Regions from separate parts of the Homo sapiens genome. Here region 1 is linked to region 2. The links come from fine-mapping of genetic effects on gene expression. A gene starts in region 2. The other region holds a variant in brackets. All regions are shown on one strand. Distances are between the middles of the regions. Region 1 overlaps NR2C2 (nuclear receptor subfamily 2 group C member 2). Region 2 holds the start of NR2C2 (nuclear receptor subfamily 2 group C member 2).

The links. PIP is the estimated chance that this variant, and not a neighbour inherited with it, causes the effect. A credible set is the group of variants that fine-mapping cannot tell apart.
Region 1: its variant is the best candidate, but not a certain one, in a credible set for the expression of NR2C2 in non-classical monocytes (Schmiedel 2018, PIP 0.58).

Annotation. Positions count from the first base shown.
Region 1 is chr3:15,016,120-15,025,566 of GRCh38, reverse strand. It overlaps NR2C2 (nuclear receptor subfamily 2 group C member 2), which reads right to left. Exons shown (of 14, transcript NM_001291694.2): 4 at 9,313-9,415; 5 at 4,635-4,814; 6 at 2,220-2,367; 7 at 1,359-1,452. Among named protein-coding and RNA genes, the nearest start is that of MRPS25, 44 kb to the left of the region's middle. RefSeq lists an enhancer at 40-539. The variant G/AG (reference allele first, on the strand shown) is at 5,393.
Region 2 is chr3:14,944,127-14,953,573 of GRCh38, reverse strand. It overlaps NR2C2 (nuclear receptor subfamily 2 group C member 2), which reads right to left and starts at 5,991. Exons shown (of 14, transcript NM_001291694.2): 1 at 5,668-5,991. It overlaps FGD5-AS1 (FGD5 antisense RNA 1), which reads left to right and starts at 5,133. Exons shown (of 2, transcript NR_046251.1): 1 at 5,133-5,561; 2 at 7,420-9,447. RefSeq lists enhancers at 4,087-4,774, 5,129-5,328, 4,775-5,462, 6,151-6,840 and silencers at 4,929-4,988, 5,379-5,798, 5,819-5,888, 5,939-6,368.

The DNA of each region.
Region 1 (9,447 bases), 72 kb before region 2:
ATTATTCGTATCAAACTTCTGTGGGGGGTATTGTTGTTTCCATTGTACACAGGAAGGAATGGGGTAGGACACAGTCTGCCTCTGAAGCTCTTTCTCTTGATTCCTGAAATACCATACAGCTTTGTGGTCATTCTCCTCCAAAGTGACAATAACTAATTCCTAACCATTAACATTTATTGAATGCTCACTGTGTACCAAGAAATTTACAAGTGCAGGAAAGAAGCATGTGGCTACGAAGAGCACTGTCAGACTCTGAACCCAGTTCTAGCCAGTTCTGGAGTCTTGGTTCTCATTCCCAGTCTGTGTGTGGATGGCCCAATAGAATGGTTGCTGTGAATCCCTTGGTAATCTGTTTTTAAGGTTATCTGGGCCTTACTTTCAGGCTTACGCTTTCTCTGCATTTGACCATGCAGTCAGAGCCACTGTTCTAGAATGTGTGCTGCTGATAAGCTAAGCCCACGATGCGTGATCCATCAGCTCCCATCATGCATGTGGCCCCTGCCCAAAGACAGAAGGTGCAAGGCCCAGCCTGAGGACCAAGGCATGCAGGGCAGCTCTCCATGACAGGCAAGGGCTCTAAATTTTGTCTTCTCTTTCCCAAAAGAGGATGCCCTGTAATGCCCTGAGTACACCCATGAATGAGACTGTGAACAGATGAGGAGGAAGCCTGCAGGCCTTGCTCTGGTTCTAATGGTTGCAGCAATGCCAGTGTTCTCAATTACCAAGTCACCCTCTTAGAGTTGTGGCTTGCTGCTACTACTTCCTCATTACTTGGTTTACATCAGGAGCACCAGGATGAGACAAACAGTGAGTTCCCTGGCCTGGAAAAAATCCCCCTCCTTGGTTATCTTCACAGGAGCCAGCAAGTCTCCCCCTTTTGGACTGACGAACATCTCTGTCCACAAGTTAAATCCCTATGACTGATCTGCTCTAGCAAAGTTTTGGAACTGATAGATTCCTGGCTGAGCTTCCTCCTGAAGATCATCTAATAAAAAGGAACCCGGGGCTTTTGCAAAAAGGCCATCTGATAAGTATTTCTTTCCTTGGCTAGTAGTTTGCCAATGTGTATAAGAGAAAAAGAAAACTATAACAGAAAAGAGAACCACTGAATGTCCACCAAATTGACATCTAGACTGACATGTTACAGTGATTATGACCAGCCAGCTCTGATCTGAGAAGCCATCAGCATCTCTAAAACAAATCACAAGATAGCTATCACAACAATAAGGAGACCGAGACATAGGTCATGCTTTTGATGTGGTCTCTGAAGGCCAGGAAGAAAGTGGTGCACACAGTTAGAGAAGCAGCCTGCAATGTCAACATAAAGGATGAGAGAGAGCATGAGTAGAGAACGTCACCTTAGAATCCGTGGCCAGGAGAACTGTACCATCCTCACGTATCAAAGGCTGCTGGATGTTCACAAGCATCCCTGGATCAAGAAGACCTGTTTGTCTATTTAAGACATAAAGAAACTCAGAGTAGCTTCCAACATTTTATGCACAGTATGATCATGCTGCATTTACCTGTCCTTCCACATTTGTGAAGCTGTCTGAATAGTAGAAAAGCTCTAAGTAGACTCAGCCGCTTAGTGACTAAGCAGAACCCCCACCCCTGTCTCTCTGCAATGAGATATACATAAAGTCAGGTTTACAGCTTGAGACAGGATGAAATGCAGATGCATCCCCCAGGGCTTTCCAGGATGACTGCAGACTGTGGCCATTCTGCCTAGAAAAGTTAACTTGATTTTCAGAAAATCAGCAAGGCATCCTCAACTCCAGCTCTCTCTCTGATACATTTTGGATTGCTTGTTTTCCCCTCTTTCCGTTCCTTTTAAAGTAAGTTCAATAGATTATATTAAAAAGAATATACAAATTAACTGTAGCACTGAGACCTTATCTCACCTTGGGCCTTTTGTGTGTACTGCAGAAATGCCCCAATCTTGAATCATAAAATAATTGTCTTCCGTATGAATGATGCCTAAATTGCAGGACATAATCTGAATTCAAGGCTAGGAGAATTTCTGACCCCTTCATAAATCAGGCATCCTCAGGCCTGTCCAGAGGTGTGACTGAGCAGCTCCAGAAGGGGCAGAATTAGGCAACACAACGCTGGAGGCTATGGCAGATGGGTGGGAAGCCACAACAGTGCCTGCTGTGGGACACGTCTGTGCCTCCTCCATCAGCTGCAAAGGCTGATTGCAGTGAGAACAAGGGACTGACCTTGCTCCATCTTTGTCTGCCACAAACGTGGGAGTAGCTATCAGGGGACTTCTCAGGTCTTTCCGGATATAGATTTTCTCAGTTGAAGCAGCACAATTGCTTGGTTTCTCCCGTTGCACATCGAAGGGCTTCCGTTCACTCTGCACAGCTTAAATCACAACATAAATATTTGTGTTTAGAGAAACAATTCCAATCAATAAAAACCACAAGGGAAAACCCCAAATCCATTACTGCAGGGAGGATGACTCTGGTGCTAGGTTCATCTAGCTCAGCTTTCACAGTGGACTTTTCGGCCAGAGAGAAGGAATAAAGCCAAACCATGCCATGTCAAATCTAGAGGCATAAAAAAGACCTCACGATGGGTGGTATTCCCTGCTAAAAAAAACTGCAGCACAGCACCTATGTGGCCTATGGAAGCACCCATGAGCCTTCTGGGCCATTTTATTAATTTTATGCTATTATTTTATGTTATTATTTTATTATTTTTTGTAGAGATGAAGCCTCATTATGTTGCCCAGTCTGGACTCATCCTGGGCTCAAGCAAACCACTCGCCCCAGCCTGCCAAAGTGCTGGAATTACAGGCATAAGCCACCGTGCCCAGCTGGTTTTTACTTCATGCTGCTAACAAAATAGACTCTTTCAAGGATAAAAAAATGCCCATCTTTGGGCCGGGGGTGGTGGCTCACGTCTGTAATCCCAGCACTTTGGGAAGCCGAGATGGGTGGATCACTTGCCCAACATGGCAAAACCCGGCCTCTATTAAAAACACAAAAATTAGCCAGGTGTGGTGGCAGGCACCTGTAATCCCAGCTACTTGGGAGGCTGAGGCAGGGAGAATTGCTTGAACCTGGGAGGCGGAGGCTGCAGTGAGCCAAGACGCGGCACCACTGCACTCCAACCTGGGCAACAGAGCAAGACTCTGCCTCAAAAAAAAAAAAAAAAAAAAAAGAAAGAAAAAGAAAAAAGAAATGCCCACCTTCAAGTGGGCCCTTAATAGAATGCATTTCCTATGCCACAATTTGTAGAGGAACCCTTCTAATTTCCAACTCAAGTCTGAATAGCTTCTGCAAACTGTTTAATGGGTGTCAATTTTATATTATGCTAGCAAACTCTCCTTTTAGCAGTCTAATGTAAGAGCAGATATGCATGTTAGAAGCAACTGAAGAAAATGAAAGCTTTTTAAAGACAAAACTGATGAAGGTCAGGGACTAATATTCAGATATGCTACTAATCAAACTGCTATCCAGTTGAATATTGTGTTTGCAGCTACAGCTGTGTTCACAAGAAAACTGATTTCAGTCATTGCTCTGAGTAAAAATATTCATCATTGAGAAAAAGGACAGCTTGGCAATGTGGGCCAGTCCCACACCAAGTCAGTGATTTATTTATTCACTTTGGGCAAAGAGCAGTATCATTAGATAAAATAAAAACATCACACCAGGCAGAAATTAGGTTGATATTTCTAATTTCTCAAAAAATACATTTCCATTTATTCTCCAGTGAATTTTGTGGATTCCTGTTCCCAGAAACGTCAACAGCAATACTGAAATATATTGGTTTTCAGAGTTCCTAGAAAACTATGCAAAAGATGACAGAACCATGCAGCATACTCAGCGGAAGCCTGCAGTCCTGGGTCCTCGGCCACCAGCCTTGCCATGCAAGTTGCATGCAAGTTGCATGCCTTGCTCTGCTAAGCTCCATTTTCCTACTGTGGCTTAAGCCTAACTCCACTCTCCTTGGATTTCTTTGTGCTGCCCATCTTGAGTCCTGGTCTTCATGTTTTCACCACTAGCTAGGGAAGTGACCTCCATGCTGACTGGTCCCTGAAAACCCCCAAAATTCTGTCTATGGGAGTGGAAAGGAGGGGCCTGAGACCTTCCCTGGCTGCCCCACACATCCAGGAGCAATAGCTTTCTCTTTAGAATCCCAGCTACACAGAGGCTTGGCAAAGGACCTTATCCCAAAAGAAAGTAGAGGGGCTAAGAAGACAGGGAGTAGGCTCATGTAATCCTCAGGAGCAATATATAAGTAAGGTGATTAAGTAGATCACAGATGAGGACCCTGTGGCTGAGAGGCTACGTGTATCCTCAGGCATCATAGCTCTCTCTTAGTGGCACACCTGGAGGTAGATTTGGTATCAGCTTTCCTCCAAAGCCTGTGTTCAACCCACTCCACTAAGCTGCCTCCTGATGCATCTGTAATAAGGCTTTCCACACACACAGCAGGAAGAGACCAACCCCTGCAGCGTTGGCTCTCAATCACCTGGCTGACCCATGAGGTAAACCAAAATGAAGCCTGAGTGCATATTTTTTTCTTAAAGTATTTTAAGGCCAGGTATAGAAACCTTATTTAATGGACTCATTTACTGTCTCCCTCCACATTAACTCATGTGGTTTTTAAATATTGTTACTCACATTCCATTTTCATGCCCATCTCTAAGCATTTTTTCAGCCGGCAAAACTGACAGCGGTTCCGGTGATGTTTATTGATGATGCAGTCTTGGTTGCTCCGGCAGCTGTAGGTCAAATTTTTCCTCACACTCCTTTTGAAGAAACCTTTGCAACCTTCACAACTGACAGCCCCATAGTGACGGCCTGAAACAGGAGAAAGAATACACAAATATTTTGTGACTATATTTGTGGATTCACCAAAGAGGTGATCTGTCAGTTCCTGTGCAAGTCTCATTGAAGTGATGGGTGCCATACACTGTTAGATGCCAACAGCCACGTGGCCTGAGCATTAAGCATACTGGCCACACCCTTCACGTAATTTCTCTACCATCTTTCAAGTAGCCTTATGAATTCATGATGGAAATACTGAAACTCAGACAGGTTATATGACAGCTGGCAGATGGCATGACCTTAGTGCTCTTAGTATACAAATGGTCTAACATACAGTAGGAGCTCACAGGTGACGGCTGAACTCTACTGTCCACTTGAACACACCTGGGTCCTATTCCTGGAGATCTGGGCTTGTGATGCGGCTCAGGGCCCCTGTCCTGCCACGAGTGGCACATAGCAAACACGTGCATGTGTGGCTTTGGCACAGAGGGTCTCACTCCTGCATTTAGCCCCTCTCTGATTCACGTCCTGGGCCCGAAACCTCCCCTGGGGAAGCGGGATAGTCACAGGGAGAAGCATGGGGACTGTCACTGCCGAAGCCCACAGCAAAA[G/AG]AGGATTACCATATGGTTCCACCTGGGCTAGCCACTCAAAGCCTTCTAGAAACACAGTTCTAGGAATGCATTTATTAAACACAGTCCATTTTTCTAATCTTGTTTTACTTTGGTGTCTCTTTTTATTTCTGATACATTGTAATTGTCCATGTCCATATTTATGAGGCATAATTTGATATTTCAATATATCCACGTTGTATAATGATCAAATCAGATAGAGTGACCATCACCTTATGCATTTATCATTTCTTTGTTAATAAGGACATTCAAAACCCTTTCTTCTAGGTATTTTATAATATATAATACCTTATTGTTAGCTATGGCTACAGTGCAATAGAACACCAGAACTTGTTCCTACTACTTAACTGTAACTTTGTACCAGTTGGTCAGTCTTTCCCAACTATCTCTCACTTTTCCCCTCCTGAGTCTTGGTGCCATTATTCTACTCTCTGTTTCTATGATATCAATTTTTTTTTTTAAGGATTCCACATGAGTGAGATCGTATTTGTCTTTCTGTGTCTGGCTTATTTCATGTAACATGATGTCCTCCATGTTCATCTATGTTGTCACAAAGTGCAGGATTTCATTCAGTTTTATGTATTCCACTGTGTTACATACCACATTTTCTTTATCCATTCATCCGCTGTTGGATACTTAAGCTGATTCCACATCTTGGCCATTGTAAATAGTCATGCAGTAAGCGTGGGAGTGCAGATATTTCTTCAACATAATGATTTTATTTCCTTTGGATATGGATCCAGTACTGAGATTGCTGGATCATGTGGTAGTTCTATTTTTAATTTTTTGAAGAACCTCCATACAGTTTTCTATAGTGGCTGTACTAGTTTACAATCCCACCAACAATGTGTAAGTGTTCCCTTTTCTCCACATCCTCCCTAGCACTTCTTTTCGTCTTTTTAATTGTAGACATTTTTTCTTTTCTTTTTTTTTGAGACAAGAGTCTTAGTCACTCAGACTGGAGTGCAGTGGCCATGATTTCGGCTCACTGCAACCTCCACCTCCTGGGTTCAAGTGATTCTTGTGCCTCAGCCTCCCGAGTAGCTGGAATTATAGGTGTGCACCACCACACTAGGCTAATTTTTTTATTTTTATAAGATTTTATAAAAATAAAATCTTTTTTTTTTTTTTTTTTTTTTTAAGACAAGAGTCTTGCTTTTGTCACCCAGGCTGGAGTGCAGTGGTGCGATCTTGGCTTACTGCAACCTCTGCCTCCCAGGTTCAAGCAATTCTCCTGCCTGAGCCTCCCAAGTAGCTGGGATTACAGGAACCCGCTACCACACCCAGCTAATTTTTGTATTTTTAGTAGAGACGGTTTTACCATGTTGGCCAGGCTAGTCTCGAACTCCTGACCTCAGGTGATCCACCTGCCTTGGTCTCCCAAAGTGCTGGGATTACAGATGTGAGACACCGCACCCTGCCAAAAAATATATATCTCATAAAAATACAAAAATCAGTAGAGATGAGGTTTTGCCACGTTGGTCAGGCTGGTCTTGAACTCCCGGCCTCATGTGATCTGCCCACCTCGGCCTGCCAAAGTGCTGGGATTATAGGCATGAGCCACTGCACCCAGCCTGATTATAGACATCCTAACTGGAGGTGATACCTCATGTGGTGATTTGCATTTCCCTGAAGATTAGTGATGTTGAGCATTTTTTCATATAACTCGGCCATTTGAATGTCTTCTTTTGCGAAATGTCTATTAAGGTATTTTGCCCATTTTAAAATTGGGTTACTTGTTTTTTTTGCTGTCGAGTTGTTTAAGTTCGCTATATGTTCTGGGTAGTAACCCTTTGTCAGGTGTACAGTTTGCATGGTATCTCCAACTTTTAATTATCAATGACATTAAAAAGTGCCCCTGGCTGGGCAAGGTGGCTCATGCCTGTAATCCCAGCACTTTGGGAGGCCAAGGCAGGCAGATCACAAGGTTAGGAGTTCGAGACCAGCCTGGCCAATATGGTGAAACCCAGTCTCTACTAAAAATACAAAAATTAGCCAGGCGTGGTGGCAGACACCTATAGTCCCAGCTACTTGGGAGGCTGAGGCAAGAGAATTGCTTGAATCTGGGAGGCAAAGGTTGCAGTGAGCCAAGATCACACCACTGCACTCCAACCTGAGGGACAGAGTGAGACTCCATCTCAAAAAAAAAGCGGCCCCTCCTTCAGTTTAGCTTTCTTATTCACAAAGTACTTTCACATACATTATGCCCACTTGTTTCCAGCTGAGACTGACCATGGACATGCTCTTCTGATTCTGTCTTGTTTGTATAATCCAATTTCATAGCTACATTGCCAAGGAGGATACATTTCACAGGATTACCATTTATGGTGGCTACAGAGAATCCCACTGTTCTAAGCTCTAGTATGCAAAACCATTTCCCAAGTGTGCATCTGGAATAACTCAGTCTTTTTCTTTTAAGAATAGTTGTGGTAAAGTGCCTTCTATAATATTGTTTTTCCTTTCTTTGCAGTATATTTCCTTGAGTTCTCTATCCCTTTGAGTGACACTAATATCAGGAGACAATGGCACCAAGAGCCTGTGACTAGGCCTTTCCTTTAAGCTCAGAAGAAGACTGACAAATGGGGAAGCCAAGCAGATTCTATGGCCCTTTTGTTACGTTCATGCTTCACTCATTTGTTCAGAAGTTTGTAGAGAGCCTTTCCTTGCTGAGCAAGAAGACAGGAATACAGAGATAGATGGTAAGACATGGTTTTTGCTCTGACATTCTGATGGGGAAGACAGGCCTGTAAAGAGTGAATTATATGAGTATGCAACAAGTGATTAATCTGTAGGAAAGGGCAATCAGAATCACAAGCAGCACTGTCTATCTGCCTACTGGGGTAGGTGAGGGCTTCAGAGAAGGGATAGGATGGGTTGGGTTTACCAGGACAAAGGGCGGGAGCAGAGGCAGGCACCATTGGCAGATAAATGGTGTCACCAGCATGGAAGGGAAACTGGAGCTTCTGATCTTCTGTAGATGCTTGCTTGGGGCTGTCTTCCTAAGAGGCTTGGTCCAACCTCCTTTTTAAAAAACAAAACAAACAAAAACCAGGACTACAGTGCCCAAAGTTCCTGTGAATTTTGTGACCACAGAAGAAAGTGGAACCAAGCAGCCATCACAGAACACAGGCCTGTGCCCCTGGCATTCCTGGTACTGTGTTCTTGTAAAATACTTCTCCATTCCTTCCTGTCTGCCTCACTAACCTTCTATGGATCCCCAGTACAAGCAGGCCAGCACTTGAATTTTTGGGCCAGACATCTTCTTCAGTCTCACTTTACCCAATCGTAATCACAGAAGCCTATGAGCTCTCTCTCAAGGATACCATGGGTATTGATCTTAAACTCTAGGCCCTGGCTCCACTTGCTGGAATGCCCTCCTCCTGCTCCAACCAACATGTACACAATTACCAAGGCTCCCAGGTGCGACTGCCTCTGTGGGGCCTTTCCTGACCCTGGGACACTAGCTGGAATCACATGCCTCCTCCTGCTTCATTACAGCAGTTATTTACAGTGGGTTATAGTGAGGGGATGTTAAGAGATAGTTACAGTTAGGATGAAGGGGGATTATACAAATTATACACCTTGTAAAATAGCCAAGTGCTGTACAAATGTTAACAAGATTAGACAATGAGTACTTTCTTAGCAGCACATAAATACTACACACTCAACCAAGATTTACAAATCACAGAAATAATTTCTTGACTTTTCCTTTTGATGTCTAATTTCTGACAAACTACCTTACTTATTTACATCATTACCCCAATAAGAAAAGTAGAATTCACATGTGAAACCTACAAACGTACATAAAATGGTCCTTCTAAATTAACTACCACCCCACCTCACAACAGTTACTTCATGCTGTTGGCCCATTATAAGTGCCAGCATAACCTGGAACTACATACCGGAGGCTTTGTCGCCACAGACCACACAGTACTCTACCACCTGGGGCCGCTGGACGTCCGTCTTCCCCAGTAAACGCTCCACAGAGGCAGAATCCGTGACAATCTGAGAGAAATCAGGAAACGAACAGGGGTGCC
Region 2 (9,447 bases):
CAGGTAGGAAACTTTTTCCCCTGCATAGCTTTTATCAACATATGAACAACAAAGGTAAATAAAGCAGCTCCCTGTAAAACCAGGAAGCCTTCAGGCTTGAGTCTAGCCCTACCAGCCTCTCATTTCTCTTCACTTTTCAGCAGCAGTCACCCCATTTTCCAGGCCCCAAGACCTTTTCTCACACCTCTCACTAACGCAAACAGGGGGGAAATATTCTTTTACACTTGGGCACTTGGAATGAAATTCCTCTCCATCTACATGTTAACATTTCAGGGATTAGAATCTTTGAGGTAACTGTTAATAATTATGGAATAGAAAGTTTCACCTCCTATTAAAGGACTTCAGGCCTCTTATTACAGTGAAGGAGGTACTTTTTATTGCCCCTAAAAAATCACACTTGCCTCTGAGGCTGACTTTCATCATTACAGGCCAACTGGAGTCCAAGGGTAACACAGAAAAAACAGTTAAGTGTCTGAGCTAGCCTATTCCCTTTCTGTCCTTAACAATTCACCTCCCATCCTTCTATTCTAAGACTTCCAGGTACCAGGGGTCTGCATCTGCATTTATTGTACCTTTAACAAATGCCTACGCCAATGCCCTGATCTGGCTTTCATCCCTCTAGTCATTCCCACTCCTCATCATTGTTGAGCTGTGCTAGTTGAGCTGTTGTTCTTGGGCAGTTCTTCCTTTTGGTATAGAGCTCCTGCTGCTTTACTCTCTAGCACTCAGGACCTGAAGTGAGCAAGGGGAGTAGGACTGCTACCTCGGGTAGCAATAGTGGGATATGGGGAAAGAGTGGCAGGATGGGAGAGAATGACAGAGAATCTCAGCCTCTGGCATATTAAGTTGAAGGCAAGCAAACCTCCAACGAATAAGGAAGAACATATCTTTTACAATGTGTAACAGGAGCACAAATGTATCCATTAAGTTAAAGATGATGATCACACAGGGAAGAAAAAAGGCATCATTTAAGGCCCTCATAATTAGCAATAAAGTAAAAAGAGGTAAACGAAAATCTAGCAGGGGATCCTTACATCAAGGCTGGACTTGGGGTCTAGACCACTTCCAATTCTGAGATTCTAAGATTCCTTCACGGACTCCCCCCGTGTGGTATTTTTTAAGATGATACTTGTACAGGAGATGGTTTGGGACTAAAGGAGCGTATGGCTTATAGGTAAGAGAACTCAACAATAAAAATCCCAACGGAGGGCCCTCGATATGTGGAGACACTCAGGCAGCTAGACACAGACCAGTGGCTCAGTGCCACGGCTGAAGACAGGGCTGCTCCACAAAGACTCACCTCCCTTGTTCTCAAAGTCATTCAGACAACAAGTATCCGCTATCCCTGGCCCCAATCTCAATGCTGGCTCCCACCTCCCTGTTTGACAAATGGGGAATTATAAGCCTCAGAGAGGCTACCAACTCCAGGTTCTGAAGCCAGGCCTTTCTGCCTTCATAGCCCAAGCTCTGTCACTGCACTGCCCTTGCCATGTTACTCCTTGGAGACAGATGCTAAAAACTTCCCAGTTGCTGGGCGCAGTGGCTCACACCTGTAATCCCAGCACTTTGGGAGGCCGAGGCAGGCGGATCACGAGGTCAGGAGTTTGAGACCATCCTGGCTAACATGGTGAAACACCGTCTCTACTAAAAATCCAAAAATTAGCCAGGCGTGGTGGCGGGCACCTGTAGTCCCAGCCACTGGGGAGGCGGAGGCAGAAGAATGGCGTGAACCCAGGAGGCAGAGCTTGCAGTGAGCCGAGATCGCACCACTGCACTCCAGCCTGGGTGACAGAGCGAGACTCCCAAAAACAAAAAAAAACACACAAAAAAAACTTCCAGCCATCCTCATAAAGTGAGGAGGTTGTTACGCACAGGGATTTTCTATAAAAGAATGATCACGAAACAAAACTTAAAAGTCACTGTGAATACAACTACTGAAAGCAATAAATAACTTAACGATGTAAGACAACATATAGCTGTTTTACTAAACTAGCAGTTCTTTGGTTACCCTGAGTAATTAGCTTAAGGAATTGAACAAGTGATACCAAAAATCTTTGAGCAAGACAGAAAAAAAAACCCAAAAATAAACAGTTAAACTATTATTATTTTTAAAATACCATAACAATATCTTATTTTAAAAGTTTTACAATATAAAATAAGTTAATACAAATGTTTTATTTACCACACTTTCGAGTAGAAACTTGATGTATACTTAACAAAATTTGCTTTTAACCTTGGTAAAGCAATTAAAAGGTGATTTTCAATAATTTCATTAAATGAATCAATTTATCTTTAGAAAGATAAATATCCCGAATTAATGGCTACAGAGACTTTCAACTCCCAATTCCCTGTGAACCCACTGGAGGCTTGTTCCTTCTCTCCAATCCCCTGTGATGGTGAGACAAAAATCAGAATATTTGATTTCAAGAAAATCATGGTAGCTTAGTGCTTCGTTTCTTCAGCTAAAGTAAATAACATAAGTTATGTTTGGGCTATTTATTTCTTCACATATGAACTTATTAACTTTCATGCACTTAAACTTGTAATTCAATCATAAAAAAATGAGTGGGAAAAACTATTGAAATGGGTCATTTTATCCATATTTATGTCTCCAGAAAGTGGCATATCTGTCAGAAATCACTTGCTAAATTCAACCAAATACCGTAACAGGCTTATTATTGCTGGCAGTGCTATCTGAATTGCCAAAGAGGCTCACACAAAAGGTATCCATCAATGTACAGCAACTTAGTTATCAGTGACATCATAAATTATCAACAATTCATTCAACAAATAGTGCCAGGCACTCTTCTAAGTGCTGGATAAGTAATGGTAAACAAAATGTATTCCTGCTCTCACAGCTTACAGTGTGGTAAGGACAGACATTAATCAAATAATCACATAATAGAGTGTGTAATTATAAAGTGAGATAAAGATTATAAAGAAAAGAATAAAAAGAATCTGATTTAGACTGGCAATGGGAATTAGGACTTCCCTGAAGAAGTGATGCTTGAGCCAATATCTGAGGTAGGGTGGGGGTGGGGGGTAAGCTTACACTGTAAGCTACACTGGTCAAGGAAGTTGAAGGTAGGCCAGTGTGTCTAGAGCACAGGAAGCTAGGGGTACCACAGATAAGAAAATAATGAAAAGCCTTGGAAAGGTTTTTAAACATGGAACAGGAAGCCTCTGCCATTACGTGGGTTCTAGTGGCGCCTGAACAACATACTGCCTGTAAGAGAGTTCTGTAAATCATAAAGCACCCTATACTTTGGTTAGTACTATTTAGTTCCATTATTTTGTTTTCCAAACTTTTGTCCTGGATGCCATGTAACTAGCTGCAAGCACAGAGCCAAAACTAGAATCTCGGTGTTCGAATCTATTGTTTTTGCCCCTACACCACACTGCATAAAAATTTCATTATTTATATCACTTAATTAGTCCAATGTCTATACCAGTAGTTCATAATGACAACAATAACTCTATTTACACAGTATTTGCTACATGTCAGGCACTTTTCTAAGCTCTATTATTTACATTAACTCATCTAATCTTCAGTTCAGGAAGGAAGGCTCTATTATTGTCCAGATGAGGACAGTGAGGCTAGGAAAGGTAGCTTACACAAAATCACACTGCTAGTAAAAGTTGGGGAGTTGCTAACCACAACACTAAAACATTTTATGTCTGTGTATGTATGTGTATAAATATCTCTATCTCGAGAGAGAGAAAGAGAGAACTCACACACAGAGAATTATATTCAACTCCAGCCTGGGCGACAGAGTGAGACCTTGGTCTCAAAAAATAAATAAATAAATAAATAAATCATATTCACATGTTTGAGGACCAGTGTCTTACTTTTTTGTATTCCCAGCCTAGCACATAGTGCCTGGAGTATTCGTAGCACTCAGGAAATACTTGATGAACTGAAAATGTATATAAGAGGCTGACGAAGGATTTGAATCTGGAAGTAAAGTGAGTTTCTGAGGCCCTCCTCCCAAGTCATGTATTCATCAGTAATTCATATGAAGGCTGTATTTTCCTCGACTTTCTTATTACATTGAAGATTTGTTCCTCACTACCGTTGCTATATTTCACAGCCTTTGGCTTGGAAACAAAGTGGGATAATGGACAATTACTAGTTCCAACCAACTCTCCAGCCACAAGCAGCCAGTTCTCGATCACATCAAATGCTCTTCCTCCAGGGCCGTTACACGGGATGTCCTGTCTGGAATGCCATTCCTCCCTTGGGTTCCTCTGTTCAAACATCACTTACTCAGAGAGGCCACCCTGACCATTCCATCTAAATTAACGCCTCAGGTCTTCTTCAGCAGGTCATTTGGCTTCTTTTCTTTCACAGAACTTATGACTCTCTGGAATTATTTGTCTATTCACCCCCCAGCCCCCAACTCTAGTGAGGGCAGGGGTCTTGTACAGCTGGTTCTCCAGATGTGTCCCCAGTGCCTAAAAAACTAAGTCAACATGTATTCAGCGAACGAATGAGAAGAGAATCACTCCCGAATTGTGCTCTCTCAAACCCCAAATACCCTTAACGCTTGCCTCTCCTGGTGGCTGTAATCCCATTTTTAACAATAACACCATTTTCAAGTGACTCTGAAGCTCGCAAAGTAGCGTTGCCTCCATTTTCTGAGTAGAGCCCCACAAACAATGCTCAGAAGGGAGGTCCGGCCTGGCAAGAATGCGCATGCCCCCCATTTACAGTCGATAAAATTGAGCCTCATTAGGGGATTCGCCAAGGCCGCTGCGAAATAACGAGCAGGAGCCCTGAAAAGTGTCCTGGTTCCGAAAACCTCTTCCCACGAGAGCGCATCGTGGACTCGAAATGCTTCATCACCTTTATTACTATTGTTCCTCAGTACTCATTCGAGACGCGTTCCAGGCGGAGGGAAGCAGCCCACCTGCTGACCCAAGACCAGGCGCCGGCCTCTCCACCCGGCCGCGCCCCTCGCGCCCCGCCCCCGGCCCCGCCCCCGCCGACCCGGCCCCACTCTTCGCCCCGGCCTCTACTCCCGCCCCGCCAGGGCTCCCGCGCCCCATAAGGACCACCCTCTTCCGCCTCAGCCAATCAGCAAAGCTTAGGGGGGCGGTGCCACAGGCCCCGGCCCTCCTATCTGGGCGCCAATTAGCCAGCCCATCCGTCGCTCACGAGGTCGCGCCTCGCACCCGCCTTCCTCCTTTTCTTTTACCCTCCCCTTCAGAAAAAACGGCGGTTGGGCTGCGACGGCCGCCAAAGGCGGACTAGAAGCGGAGGGGTGAAAATCCCGGCAGAGAAGGAAGAAGGGACTGCAGGCGGGAGGAGGAGGAGGATAAGGAGGAAGGGAGCCCGCCCAGCCGGAGCCATCTCCGTCGAGAACAAAATGGCGGCGCTGGCGGAGGGCCAACTATAAGGCGGGGCCGCGGCCATTCCCCCTCCACCCCCACCCTTGCGCCGGCCGGGCCGGTCAGGGGGAACCCGCTCGCTTCGCCCGGCCGCGGGCGGGGAGGGGAGGGGAGCGGCCCGGCCCACTATGCAAAGCGCCGGGCGCCGCCGCCGCCACCCCGTGGCAAAGGTAAAAGGGTCGGGTTCAGCCGCCGCCGCGGCGCCTCCATGTCCGCGCGCCAGGCCCGCCCCCTCCGCCGCCGGCCCGAGCCCGCCCGACCCTCTTTCAATTTTACCTCAGGATTTGGCGCCAAAGCGGCCTCGAAGCGGGTCCCGTGTCTGCGGCGGGCGGCCCCCGGCGCGGAGGGCAGGGCGCGGGGAGCCCGGGCTCCCGGTGTCGGCGGATGGCGGGAGCCCGGGGGCCGCGGGCTCGCGGGGCAGCGGGCGAGAGACGAGACGCCGAGGTGGGAGCGGGGTGGCGGGGACGGGCCCGGGGGCGCCGCCGGGGTCGCGGAGAAGGGGGGGTTTGTTATTGTTTTTGTCAGTGAAAGGTCAGAGTTCGTGACCCCGGTGCCGCCGCCGCCGCCGCCCGCGCGCTGGTAGGAGGAGGGCGAATGTTCTTCTTCCTCTTCCCAGCGCCAGCCTCGCCGCCGCGGCGGGGGGCGGGCGAGAACGCGATTGGCTGAGGCGCGCGCGCGCACCGGAACGCCGCAGCCGGCGCTCGGTCCATCCGGCCCGTGGGCTGTGGGGCCCCGGGCGGCGGCGGCTACGTAGCTGCCGCCGGCCTTGGCCGCGGCCGGGCGGGCGGATATGTGGCTTAAATGGCGCAGGCGTCGGGGCCTAGAGGCTGAAGGGCTGGTCGTCCTAAAAACTCGTGGACGTCGCGCACGGTTACCCGGACGCAGGCCCGCCCCTCTGGGGAACCGCGAGCTCCTCGCAGCTGGGTGGGGACCGTCCTCGCAGTGGCGGCCTCCACCCTGCCTTCTCGCTTAGCCAAGGCTTCTGGAAGGCTCGCAAAGTGTCTGTTGTTGGAAGAAGCCGGGCCCTGACTGGCGCGACGGATTCTCCCAGCCGCTCAGCAGAGCGTCTGTAGGTCGGAAGTGGGGGTTGTATTGGGTGGGTATTGAGCTCTTCGGCCCTTCCTCGGTACTGATAGTTTTTAATTTAGGTTTTAAAGGTCTAAAGATGCGCCCGTTCTGGCCATCTCAGGTGAAATGTTGAAACGCCCCAGAACCTATAATTTTTGGTTTCTTAGTAAACATACGATCCAGATCTTGTGTAATTCCATGCCCCTCCTCCTCGAAATTTGGAAGTAGTACATGGTAATAGGGATGTGTAAAGCAGCTTTTAGCAGCATTGCTTAAATTTATTTGAAGAAATTGGCCTGTCTTGCTCTTAAACTCTTGGGCTGTAGGTTTTCCTTACATATTTCTCTGTTTTATGTCGTGGTTTTGACTTGCCTGGGAAGGTGCAGGCGCTTATTTATCCTAAATGCCCTGAAGTGTTTAGGCTACAGGCTGTAGATCTTATACTGATTTTTTTTCTTCAGTTTTCTTGCTTATTAAGAATAAATATTGACTCCAGAATGGATGGGTTAACTTTTTTTCCCACACAGTATCCATTTGGGTTTTTATCAGGATGACTCCAACATTTAGTATTTTTTTTTCCATAATCTTATAATATTTCTATTTGGTAAAAAATGTTTTAAACACAGCTATTTCCCCTTCCTCCTTTTTCTGACGTTGCAAAATTGGGAAAAGAGCTAGGTTCGTTTTGTCATGGTAAAGCACAGCTCTTGAAATTGGAAGAGGCCTTAAGGGAATGTGGTCAAATTTTTTTCTTGCAGAAAGATTTTCCGATTTTAGGGGTGAAGTGGGTGAGAACTAGAAAGGTCAAGTGATGTACCTGAGAGGCAAAAGCAATTGCGTTTTTGCATTTTTGAAATTTGCTGTTTGATATTGGAATACATTCTTAAATAAATGTGGATCATTTTAATGCACATTTCTCACTTTATTTTTTTGCTAATGACTTATTGCTGTTTATTTTAGAATATGCTTTTTGTCTAATGATGTTAGATAAAAAGCAAATTTGGAGCAGTTTTCTTATTCGAGTTCAAAATGGTTCATAAAGCAGCGAAGACAACTCAAAACATCAGTAACACATTTGGCCCAGGAACTGCTAACAAACATACAGTGCAGTGGTGGCTTAAGAAGTTTTGCAAGGAAGAGAGCCTTGAAGATGAGGAACGTGATATGGGCCATGGGAAGTTGACAACGACCAATTGAGAGCAATCATTGAACTACATGAAAAATTACAGAAGAACTCAGCGTTGACTATTCTACGGTCATTAGGGTCGTTCAGCATTCGAAGCAAATTGGAAAGGTGAAAAAGCTTGATAAGTGGGTGCCTCATGAGCTGAGCGGAAATCAAAACTATCGTTTTGAAGTGTAGTCTTCTTTTATGCTACGCAACAACAAACCATTTCTCAATCGGATTGTGACATGTAATGAAAAGTGAATTTTATACAACAACCAGCTCAGTGGTTGGACCAAGAGGCAGCTCCAAAGCAGTTCCCAAAGCCAAACTTGCACCAAAAAAAAGGTCATGGTCACTGTTCGGTGGTCTGCTGCCCATCTGATCCACTACAGTTTTCTGAATCCTGGTGAAACCATTACATCTGAGAAGTATGCTCAGCAAATTGGTAAGATGCACCGAAAACTGCAATACCTGCTGCCTGCATTGGTCAACAGAAAGGGCCCAATTCTTCTCCACGACAACACCTGACTGCGTGTCGCACAACCAGTGCTTCAAAAGTTGAAGGAATTGGGCTACAAAGTTTTGCCTCATCCACCATATTCACCTGACCTTTCGCCAACTGACTACCACTTCTGCTAGCATCTTGACAACTTTTTGCAGGGAAAACACTTCAGCATGGTGCAGAAAATGCTTTCCAAGAGTTCGTCAAATCCTGAAGCACGGATTTTTATGCTACAGGAATAAACAAACATTTCTCATTGGCAAAAATGTGTTGATTGTAATGGTTCCTGTTTTGATTAATAGAATATGTTTTAGCGTAGTTACAATGATTTAAAATTCGCAGTCTGGAAATTTAATTTTTGCATCAACCTAATATTTCTATGGTAAATCCTTGCAAACATGGAAACAATGCATTTGGCCCAGTGCTTTGTGGTTGTGTACTCTTTTTCTTTGTTTTTTTAATAGATGGCATTGGCCGGGCATGGTGGCTCATGCCTGTAATCCCAGCATTTTGGGAAGGTGAGGTGGGTGGATCACCTGAGGTCAGGAGTTCAAGACCAGCCTGACTAACATGGTAAAACCCCATCTCTACTAAAAATACAAAAAAATTAGCTAGGCGGGGTGGCGGGCATCTAATTCCAGCTACTTCATGAGGCTGCGACAGGAGAATCATTTGAACTCGGGAGGCAGAGGTTGCAGTGAGCCGAGATCACACCATTGCACTCCAGCCTGGGCGATGAGCGAAACTGTCTCAAAAAAAAAAAAAGTTGGGGTCTCGCTGTGTTGACCAGGCTGGTCTCGAACTCCTGGCCTCAAGTGATCCTCCCATCTTGGCCTCCCAAAGTGTTAGGATTACAGGCGTGAGCCACCACACCCTGCCTGGTTGTGTACTCTTTTAAATACTAAGTTTTTAATGTTAAATGCTGCTTTTAGATACACTGTAAAAATACACCTATCAATGAGTTTTTTTATTAAAAACATTGCAATTGTACTAGACTTTAAATACTAAGCAATAATTCAGGCTTCAATGTTGGTTTATAGTTTTCTCATTTCTTTCATTTAATACCTCTGTAAAATGAAGCAGTTACTTCCATTTTCCTGAGGTGAGATAAGTGCCCTGCACAATGTTATAGGCCCAGTAAGTGAGACTGGAGCTCTGATCTAATCCCTTTGACATTAAAGTTTGTGCAGTAAACCAGCTATGTCAGTTTGCCACATTTGTAATAGTGTTCAATAAATTTTCACTTAAAGGTTTAATATTAAAGTAGTAGCAAGAATTCATAACCTTAATTGGCTTTAACAGCTTTTCTTTCCCTGAA